2 separate regions of the Homo sapiens genome follow, and region 2 is linked to region 1. Evidence: fine-mapped expression QTL. A gene starts in region 1. The other region holds a variant in brackets. All regions are shown on one strand. Distances are between the middles of the regions.

What was found.
Region 2: its variant is fine-mapped to the expression of TRMU in blood mononuclear cells (TOPMed, PIP 0.98).

Annotation. Positions count from the first base shown.
Region 1 is chr22:46,333,398-46,338,763 of GRCh38, forward strand. It overlaps TRMU (tRNA mitochondrial 2-thiouridylase), which reads left to right and starts at 2,317. Exons shown (of 11, transcript NM_018006.5): 1 at 2,317-2,449; 2 at 4,382-4,547. The coding sequence starts at 2,368. RefSeq lists enhancers at 2,355-2,574, 2,407-2,906 and a silencer at 2,715-2,764.
Region 2 is chr22:46,288,241-46,293,606 of GRCh38, forward strand. TTC38 (tetratricopeptide repeat domain 38) reads left to right here. Exons shown (of 14, transcript NM_017931.4): 11 at 183-348; 12 at 1,162-1,321; 13 at 1,586-1,659; 14 at 4,551-5,366. The coding sequence ends at 4,644. Among named protein-coding and RNA genes, the nearest start is that of GTSE1-DT, 5.7 kb to the right of the region's middle. The variant C/T (reference allele first, on the strand shown) is at 2,238.

The DNA of each region.
Region 1 (5,366 bases):
CCTGCCTCTCACATGGAGATTGTGTATTCAGTGAAAGGCTGATCAAAGACCCAAAGGAATGCAACAGTTTATCTCTTATCTACCTATGACCTGCGAGCTGCCCACCACCCCCAGTTGTTGCGCCTTTCCAGACAGAACCAGTGTACATCTTACACGTATTAATTGATGTCCTGTGTCTCCCTAATATGTATCAAAGCAAGCTGTGCCTCGACCACCTTGGGCACATATCCTCAGGACATCATCCTGAGGCTGTGTCACTGGCATGTCCTTAACCTTGGCAAAATAAACTTTCTAAATTGAAACCTGTCTCAGGTACTTTGGGTTCATACCACAAGGGAGGGTTCTCATGCACATGTGCCTAATAATAACAACTATCACAAAAGACTGCAAAAACCACAACTTTACACAAAGGCTATCGTAACCTTCCTCAAAAAAAAAAAAAAAACAAAAAACTTCTGTTGCAAGGACATCTGCCCAGCAACTGCTTGTCCAACCCTGGAGTGCTGTCACCCTTGTTATTGATCTTTGTAGCCAAAGAATTATCTCAAAACAATGATGTGATCCTCATTTTCCCTTTAAAAACCTTTGTCTTCCTAGGCCGGGCACTGTGGCTCACGCGTGTAATCCCAGCACTTTGGGAGGCCGAGGCGGGCGGATCACAAGGTCAGGAGATCAAGACCATCCTGGCCAACATGGTGAAATGCCGTCTCTACTAAAAATACAAAAATTAGCTGGGTGTGGTGGCATGTGCCTGTAATCCCAGCTACTCCGGAGGCTGAGGCAGGAGAATCGCTTAAACCCGGGAGGCGGAGGTTGCAGTGAGCTAAGATCACGCCACTGCACTCCAGCCTAGTGACCAAGTGAGACTGTCTCAAAAAAATAAATAAATAAAATAAAAACCTTTGTCTTCCTTTACTTCCCTGAATACCCACATAGCTTATTGTGGCATGCATATTCCCATTGCAATGCCCTATTCACAAATGAACATCTTTTTCGTTCAGAGTCTCCCTGTGCTTTAGGTAGACCTTGTCTAGATGCTAACTCGTAGAGAAGAACTCAGCTTGAATATCACCCCTGGGGGATGACCTCCATTCTCTCCTCCTTCCTTTATTCAGCGAGGTTATGAAGCACCTGCCCTGGGCCAGGGGCTTTTCTGGGCATGGAGTAGGAGTGGACAGAACACAAAACCCCTGTCCAACACACCTCACAGACATTAAGGATTGAGTGCTGAGTATGCTTGGAGTCAAACTGTAAAAGATTTGAAGATATTTATTCATGTCATAGTCCCAGGAGATCCTGAGAACACGTGCTCAAACTGGTGGTGCTACAGCTTTTGGTTTCGTACGTTTTAGGGAGACATAAGCCATAAATCAATACATGTAAGATGTAACATTGGTTCCGGAAAGGTGGGACAACTCGAAGGTGGGGTGGGGCTTCCAGGTCATAGGTGGATTCAAAGATTTTCTGGGCCGGGGGCAGTGACTCACACCTGTAATCCCGCCACTTTGGGAGGCTGAGGTGGGCGGATCCCTTGAGGTCAGGAGTGAGAGACCAGCCTGGCAAATACGGTGAAACCCCGTCTCTACTAAAAATACAAAAATTAGCTGGGCTTGGTGGCGGGCGCCTGTAATCGCAGCTACTAGGGAGGCTGAGGCAGGAGAATCGCTTGAATCTTGGAGGTGAAGGTTGCAGTGAGCCGAGGTCGCGCCCACTACACTCCAGCCTGCGACAGAGCAAAACTCCATCTCAAAAAAATTTAATTAATTAAAAATTAAATTAAATTAAAATACTGTAAAATACTTCGATATCTTTCAGGGCCTGCCATCTGTCATGTCGGTATCCTATTGCTACGGAGAGTCCGCCTAGACAGTCTTAAGTCTGTTTTGACGTTAATGCTGGTCCGAATTCCAAAGGGAGGAGGAGGGTCTAGTGAGGCGGGTCCCACCCGGCCTTTCCCATCAGAGCCCGAACTCGCGGTTCAGGTTCCCTCTAGGACGCCCTTGGCCGAGAGGAGGCCTCCAATGGCTGGCTGGGGGGCTTAGAATTTTATTTTTGGTTTACAGCGCAGAAGAAGAGCAGTGAGGCCGGGGCGCGGGTGGGGAGGGCAAGGCGGCGGCTCAAAAAAAAAGCCAGCCCCTCGCGGCCCGACAGAGTCTCGGCGCCCCGCGGGTCGGTGGAGCCTCAGGGGTGAGCGCAGGCCGGAGACAGGGGAACCCGCCGCGGGACAGGGGAAGGCCGGACGGAACGCGGGTAAGCTGCCGCAGCTTCCGGCCGGGCCACTAGCGCGGACCCTACGGCCGGGGCGGGACTTCCGGCAAGGCGCGGAAGCGGCGGTAGCTGCAGCTGGCGAAGTTGGGCGACTGGCGGATGCAGGCCTTGCGGCACGTCGTGTGCGCCCTGTCCGGCGGCGTGGACAGCGCCGTGGCCGCGCTGCTGCTGAGGCGGAGAGGTGAGGCGTCCGAGGCTCCCGCCCCCCGCCGAGCGAATGTGTCCCCGGAAACCTGTCCCCGTCCGTCGTGGCGTTGTGCACGTCTCCTCCCTCCCTGGGCCGCTGGTTGCGCGCGGGTCGGCAGGAGGATACCCCGTCCTCTGACTTTGGTTCGGAGGCTCCTCGCCCTCCACCTGTGTAGTCGGAGGTGTGCGCGACTGCAGCTCCGACTACCTGGGAGCAGTTCCGCGCCCCTCTCCACCCACGCGCGCCCACCCACAGTGAGAAGCCGGCGGGCCGGGGTGGGGTGGGGAGGGAAGGGTTTCTCACGGATCTGCGGCGTCCACATTCACCTGTGAGACCGTGGACACTGGTGAGGGGAGCTGGGATCGCCGGGCCGGGGGCCTGACCTCTGCACACGCTGTGGCCGCCCGGTGGGAGGTCCTTGTCCTCCCCACTCAGCAGACTGGACAACTGCCGCGCGGCGGGTCTGCTTGTTCAGCGTCTCCTGTGTTCTCCGCTCGCTGGAGGACAAAGTTTTCTCCAGGAGCATTTGCATTTCTTCCGGCATCTAAACGGAGCCCCACGGGTGCTTAGCATTCCTCGGGCCCGGCGCTGAAATGAGCACTTGTTTAACTTCACCTGTGTGGCTCCCCGCGGGAGGCCTCATTCACAGAGTCACGTTTGTGGAGCTCTGCTTTGCGCCATCTTTGGCTCCTGACCTTGGGCAAGTGAATTAAGCCGTCCCCTGTAAAATTCGGCTAACACCTGCCTCACGGGGTGACTGGAGGGATTAGATGACATAGTACATACTGATGAGTACGTGCTCAGCACATACGAGGTACGCAGAAAACAGTAGTGGCTATTAGTTTATATTGTTAATAACCATAGCTATTATGGTAGGTACAGTAAGTGCCAAAGAGAAGGGTAGGCGGACCATAAGCAGAAATAGTTGTGAGGAAGGGAGAGTGGAGGAAAGCATCCTAGAGATGGAGGTGCTCAGCTGAGTCGAAAGAAGAGTAGGATGTCACTAAGCAGAGACTTGGAGGTGGAGGCGGCCCTCCCGGCACAGTCAGCAGTGCAAGCAGAATCACAGAGGCCTGCAAGTGTGGGCTGGTTCTGGCCAGATGGAGATGGAAGGAGAGGAGCCTGGAGCACGTTTAGCCCTGATTATGGAAGATGCTATACCAGGGGCTTTAGACTGTTAGGTAGACATTAGTCTGGTTGATCTGGGATAGGGGTGGTCTTTCGCGTGTGGTGGTGTAGTTTTGACAAAGCTTTGTCATCAAATTTCTGTTGTTTTGGGTACTATATGAAGCCTTCTTCAGCAGTCATTTGCCCTGTCTTTCATTACATTCAGCCTACCTAAACGAACCAGCTTTCTCATACAGGGTCTGCACCTGTGTAGTTTGCTAAGGTGGTGTAGGGCTAAAGTTGGCCTTTCCAATATTTGGGTGAATATTTTGTTACAATCGAAAAGGTAGAAAATAGGTCATAAACTAGGTGGTACAGCTCTTACAAAATATCGAAAATTTTAATTATCTTTATATCTGATCACTTAGAATCTAAGTCTTAGATAGTAACTAGAAATAACTTTTGAAAAGAGTTTCCTTTTTTGATAACTGAATGGTGCTTTGAAAAATTTTGTTGAGTTTCGACTATTCCTTCGTGTATTCCACACACACTGGCTGATCCCCTCCTGCTAGGTATTGTGCTGATACATAGATGGGGACACAAAGATGAGAAAATACCACCTCGTTAATCTTGGGGACTCAGGCACCAAGATGGAAACCGGATCCCTGAAGCCACATGGCAAAGCAGGGACTGCCCGGCAGGCCAGGCACAGAGGCACAGGAGCACAGCGTGTGGGGAACTTCTCAGAGCTCAGAAATCACTGCCGTTTTACCGAAGGTTGATTTATGTATTCTCTTTAATTGACCTTCCCGCCCGCAGGTTACCAGGTGACAGGGGTGTTTATGAAGAACTGGGACTCACTGGATGAACATGGGGTCTGTACTGCCGACAAAGACTGTGAAGATGCTTACAGAGTTTGCCAGATCTTAGACATCCCTTTCCATCAAGTGTCCTACGTAAAGGAGTATTGGAATGATGTGTTCAGGTGAGTGCGGGTCACAGCACAAAGGAAGCTTCCTCACACTGTGGATCCTTGCAGTGGAAGGATCCGGTAACCAGCCAGACCGACGCCTGTGCTGCAGCCCAGCGCTCTCCCTCCACGGTGGTGCTGAAGACTGCAAGAGGCCTCAGCCACCCTCGGGGCTCTGTGTTAGAGGCGAGGCCTGGACCCCACAGCACACCCAGCTCTCTCACTCCTGTCATTTTGCCACTTGCCTGAAGTCTCTTTAATGCTTTCTTGGACCTTGAGCTGTTTCTGTTGCCCAGTTAGGATAGGGGAGCTAAGGCTGAGGGCTCCCCTGGAAGGTGAGCACCAATGCCTGTGTGCTATGTGGGTCAGCGATTAGGGGATTTCTGAGAAAGAGGTGATACATGGCCTGTGCCTCTGAAAACAAGAAACAAACAAAAACTTTTCTAAAATCCAATATAATCTCAATAATTAAGTGCTGTGTGCTAGGCGTGTGCCACATCTAGGAACATTAAGATGTCTTCACTGTGACCTGGCTCTGTAGGAGTTTGCGGTCTAGTTGGGAGGACATTATCTTCACAAGAGGTGACAGTGATGCGTGGCACGCAGGAAGTACCAGTGATGCTATCAGTCACTGAACCCAGAGGAGGGAGAAACTTGCAGTGTGGAGTAATCAAGAAGGCTTCACCGGAGAGGAGGGGTTGCAAACAAAGTTGTAGAGAAGGGACTCCAAATGGGGTAACGAGAGCAGCGTGAAGGGGAGAAGAAATGCTGATTGTGTATTTCAGGACCGTTGTAAAGTTTGGCTGGACTTTTGTTCCTGCAGTGGAAGGAGTG
Region 2 (5,366 bases), 45 kb before region 1:
CAGTCCTGATAGAGGCCTAAGCACAAGGCCAGACGCTGCCCGTGGCCCTGCCCACCTCCCCGGCCTCTCACCTGGGACAGGGTCATCAAGGCCTCCAAGGGAAGCGCCGTGAGGGAGGCCCTTGCACGGGACATGCCCCAGAGCCTCACTCCAGGCCCTGGGTCTCCTCCCCATGTCCTCAGGAGTGTCTGTGGGCCAGCGGTGGCAGGATGTCCTGCCTGTGGCCCGGAAGCACAGCCGAGACCACATCCTGCTGTTCAATGACGCACACTTCCTGATGGCATCCCTGGGTGCACACGACCCCCAGACCACACAGGAGCTGCTGACCACCCTGCGGGACGCCAGCGAGTATGCAGAGGGGCCTTCTCGGGGTGGGGGTCCTCACCCTGCCGAGAGGGTGAGGGGGTGCTAGGGCCATGCTGAGACCTGTTCAGTGCCTGCCCCGCCTGTGAGTGCAGCAGGGGGGATGCCCATGGAGGCAGCTCCCAGGTGTGCACCCCTATAGATGTGCATCCCCTGGTGCAGACCCCCAAGGTGTGTACACCCACAGCTGTACAACTGGTTGCCCCAAGACACAGAGCTGCCTCCATCCCCAGGGTGGGTATGAGATCCGCAGGGTCACAGGGCTGCCTCCCGTGGAGAGGACACAGTGAAGCCCTGAAGCCAGAGACACCTGCTGCTTACAGGCCCTGAGGTCCTGGACGAGGTGCTTCTGTGCTCTGAACCTCAGTTTCCCCATCTAAATCAGGGCGATGCCTGGCAAGAGCTGGTGAGGGCTGACCTGGAGGACCTGGGCTGCCCTGCCCATTCCCTTCCGGGGGTGATGATTGCCTTGGCTTGCAGTGCCAGGCCTTTGCCTGTATTATCAGCAATCCTGACGGTTCTGTTAGATTGGCACTGTTATGCCTGCTTACAGATGAGCAAACTGAGGCTGGAAGGTGGGGGACCAGGTAGCTGGAAGTGGGCGAACTCCAACCCAGCTCTGAGCTCAGTACCCTGTCCTGTCCCCTCGATGGGCTGCCCCGCCTGTCACCTCACCTCATCAGTGTGGCATGTGTCAGGCACTGGACCAGGGACACCTCGCTGAGGAAGAAATGGCTCTGCCCTTCCCGGATGTTCTGTGATGGGCAGGCAGCTGAGGGCACCGTCTTGGGTTCGCAGATCCCCAGGGGAGAACTGCCAGCACCTCCTGGCCCGAGACGTGGGGCTGCCCCTGTGCCAGGCCCTGGTGGAGGCTGAGGACGGGAACCCTGACCGCGTCCTGGAGCTGCTCCTGCCCATCCGCTACCGGATCGTCCAGCTCGGTGGGAGCAATGCCCAGGTGAGCCGATGGCCGCCAGCTGGGGTGCCTAGGGCCTGGGCCAGGGAGTCTGGGCGCCCCGCAGCCCCCAAGTTTCTCCCATGGTGTTGGTGCCAACAATGTGGGTGTGAACGTGTCTCTCACACTCCCGCCGTGTAAGTTCGTCGTTGAGGGTGTGGCATCAACACCACTGTCTCCCTGGAGAGCAGGCAGCCCGCGGTGGGCGGGGGCTCGCCTCCCCCATCCTGAGGTACAGGAGACTCACATGCCCGATTGACATTTCAGAGAGACGTCTTCAACCAGCTGCTGATTCACGCGGCCTTAAACTGCACCTCCAGCGTCCATAAGAACGTAGCCCGGTGAGCTCCTGGCCCCTGCCCAGCACTCCCGACCTTCACAGGCTCTCCCTGCAGACCTCAGGAGTGCCTGGAAGCCCCACCACCCTTGGCCCGAGATGCTCCTGCTTCTGAGGCTGTGAGGTCGGGAGGCTGTGGGGAATTTGGTTCTCCTTTGTTAGCAGGCTCAGTGTGACCAAGTGGAGCCAGCCCCACCCCAGGCCCAACCTCCCACCCTTCCCAGCCCACTCCCTTTTAGCCTTGCTAAGCTACCTGGGTACGTAAACACGTCCTGCTCTTTCAGGCTCCTGGGCCTTTGCACGCTTGGAACACCCTTTCTCCTTTTTTGCACCTGGCCGACACCTAATGCTCAGTTAGACCTCAGCTCATTTCACCTGCCTGCCTGTGCTGGGTACCGAGAGGGAGCAGTGAGCAGGCACACCAGTCACTGGCTACCAGGAGCCCATCTGTAGTCGGGGGAGCGACAGGGAGCAATCAGTCCCACAGACACGTAAACTCGCACTGAGGGAGCAGCAGCTGAGGGCAGACCCGAAACCACAGTGGGTTTAGCCAGGCCAGGCATGGGGCTGGTAGGAGGGTGG[C/T]GTGGCTGGAGGGTGAGTGTTAGGGTGGCATGGCTGGAGGGTGAGTGTGTTAGGGCAGCGTGGCTGGAGGGTGTTAGGAGGGTGGTGTGGCTGGAGGGTGAGTGTTAGGAGGGTGGCGTGGCTGGAGGGTGAGTGTTAGGAGGGTGGCGTGGCTGGAAGGTGTGTTAGGGTGGCGTGGCTGGAGGGTGAGTGTTAGGAGGGTGGTGTGGCTGGCAGGCGAGTGTCAGGAGGGTGGCATAGCTGGCAGATGAGAGTGCTGGGGGAACTCCAAAGAGCCCTCACCATTGCCAGCAGCCTTGGTGCTTCCATGGCCCAGCTTGCCTCCCTCCACTTAGGCTGCTGAGCTCTTGGCCAGCAGCTGCGTAGCCCGTGTGCCTGAGCGGCGAGTTTGACACCTCTCCTTGCCCATGTCCCTGCCACCCTCAGACATAAGTGAAAGGAAGAATAGAGGAGTCATGGGGTGCCTGGTGGGGAAGGTGTGCTGTGAGAGCAGGTGGCAGCCCGGGTCCACAGGAGGCCCTTGGCTGGTGACAAGCCCAGTGGTTTAGGCGCAGGTGCACCAGCGCAGCTCCCTCCAGGCAGGGTTACCCAAACTGAGCTGTACAGGTTCTGTGGTACTCATGAAACAGGTCTGGCTGGCAGCACTGGAACCGCCTAGAACTGTAAAATGTCTTGGACGCATGCTCCCCGCTTTCCCCTTCCATGGCTGTAGACAAAACCATGCGTGTTTCTTTGGTGGTCAAGCCCCCTGGGGAGCTCAGGCTGTGGTGTGGGTGGGAGTTGGTGCCTCTGGCAGCAGCGGTGGGGAAAGTGGCTGTGTGGACAGGAGGGCTGAGGATGGAGCTGGGGTGACATCTGTGGGGCAGTGCGGCAGTGCCGATGTGGCCTTCTGCGGGGCCCAGTGGGGGAGGGCAGGGGGAGAGCAGGCTGCACAGGGAGCCGACTGCATTAGGAGACGTGGAGGGGGCCTTCTCTCCAAGTCCTGTCCTGCTACCAGGCAGCATCCATGGGGCCATCAGCACAGCTCACCAGCCCCCAAGGTGGGAAACCTTCCACCCACAGCCATGGTGCCCCCCACAATGAGTTCCCGGCCCCAGCCCCTTCACACCACCCACGCCCTCTAGAACCACTGTTTTCAGGTGTTTGGGGGCTGTCTTAGTCAGTTTGGGTTGTTATTTTAAAAGTGCCACAGACAGGCCGGGCACGGTGGCTCATGCCTGTAATCCCAGCACTTTCGGAGGCCAAGGCGGGTGGATCACCTGAGGTCAGGAGTTCAAGACCAGCCTGGCTAATATGGTGAAACTCCGCCTCTACTAAAAATACAAAAAATTAGCCGGGCGTGGTGGTGGGTACCTGTAATCCCGGCTAGTCGGGAGCCTGAGGCAGGAGAATCGCTTGAACCTGGGAGGTGGAGGTTGCAGTGAGCCGAGATCGCGTCATTGCACTCCAGCCTGAGTGACCGAGGGAGATTCTATCTCAAAAAATTAAAAAATAAAAGTGCCACAGTCTGGGCGGCTTGCACAGTAGGCATGCACTGTCTCACAGTTCTGGAGGCTGGAATGTCCAGGAACAAGGCCTGGCTGGGTTCAGTTTCTGCTGAGGCCTCTCTTCCTGGCTTGTGGACAGCCACTTTCTTGCTGTGTCCTCACATGACCTTTCCTTTGAGTGCTAATTCTTTCACGTCTCTTCTTTCTTCTTTCTTTTTAAATTTTTTTATATTTTTAGAGGCAAGGTCTCACTCGGTCATCCAGGTTGGAATGCAGTGGTGTGATCACAGTTCACTGTAAACTCAAACTCCTGGGCTCAAGGAATCTTCCTGCCTCATCCTTCCATCGTGCAGGGATTACAGGGGTGAGCCACCACACCTATCTCTTCTTATAAGGGCACTAATCCCATTCACAAGGGCCCCACCCTCATGACTTAATCACCTCCAAGAGGCCCTGTTCTTAATACCATCACCTTGGGCATTTGGGCTTCAACATATACATTTAGCCTGGACACAGACATTCAGTCCACAGCAGGGTCTTTACCTCAAACCGTACCTGGGTCTTCTCTCTTCAAACCTGGGTTTTCCCCACTGCCACCTGTTGTGCCCCATCTCGGGTGTGGCTTCCTGCACTGGAGGTCTGTGCCCTCCCATCCTCACCTCTCCCCAAACTGAGGCCAGGCCTCCTGCCCCTGGGCCTTGGCCCTTGCTGTTCCCTCAGTGCCGCAGTCTAGCCTGCCTGTGTTCTGCCTTGGGACCAAGGGACCACCAGGCCCCACATCCCTCTAGAAGGTTCTGTAACAGGACCTCTGTGTCTGTTTCCACAGGAGCCTTCTGATGGAGCGTGATGCCTTGAAGCCCAACTCGCCCCTGACCGAGCGGCTCATCCGCAAGGCAGCTACCGTCCACCTCATGCAGTGAGCCAGCCTGGCCGCCTCCACCCTGCAGAACCTCAGTGGTGGCGTCACTGCGTCCAGTCAGCTGCTCCACCGGGTTAGGGTCAGGAGACGGCCAGAGCCTGTTTGTTAGGGCTGTTAGAGGGTGATCTTCAGTTTTACAGGAAGTGGGTCACGGGTTAATTTTAAATGTGATTCCGAATCTCCTTTCAGTCCTCGAGAAGGGCCAATGAGCATTTTTCAGCAGTCACAGCCAGTGTGAGTGCTGCTCTTTCCACCTGCCTTGCAAATTCTGTTTCCCAGGGGAATGTGTCTACTGCCTGGTGGTTCAAAGGTTGGAAGGCAGGGCAGAGGTGGGGGCTGATTCTGCTGGGACAGGTCTTCCAGAGGCAGCCTCCCCCCACTGCCTGTCCCCGTCCCCACCAGGCTGCCCTTGGGATGGACCTTTTCATTCTTTTCTTTATATTCTAGACAGTCTCTGTTGTCTCATTGTGTTGCTGTCCCATTTTTCAGGTGAGGGTACCGGGGTAGGGGAGTGGCCTGCCCAGGGTCACACTATGAGAGGCCCCCACCTGCTGCCTTTGGACGCAGCCCCCTGCTGCTGCATCCACCACCCTTCTTACAGATCAGCGCGCACATGGGGTCCTTCTGCTGTCTCTGGGGCGAGTCTTGGAGCCCCCTGGGGGGCTCTGTTGGTGCTGATTTGGACCCGTTTCTCTTTTTAAACTGCACATCATAACAGGGCTT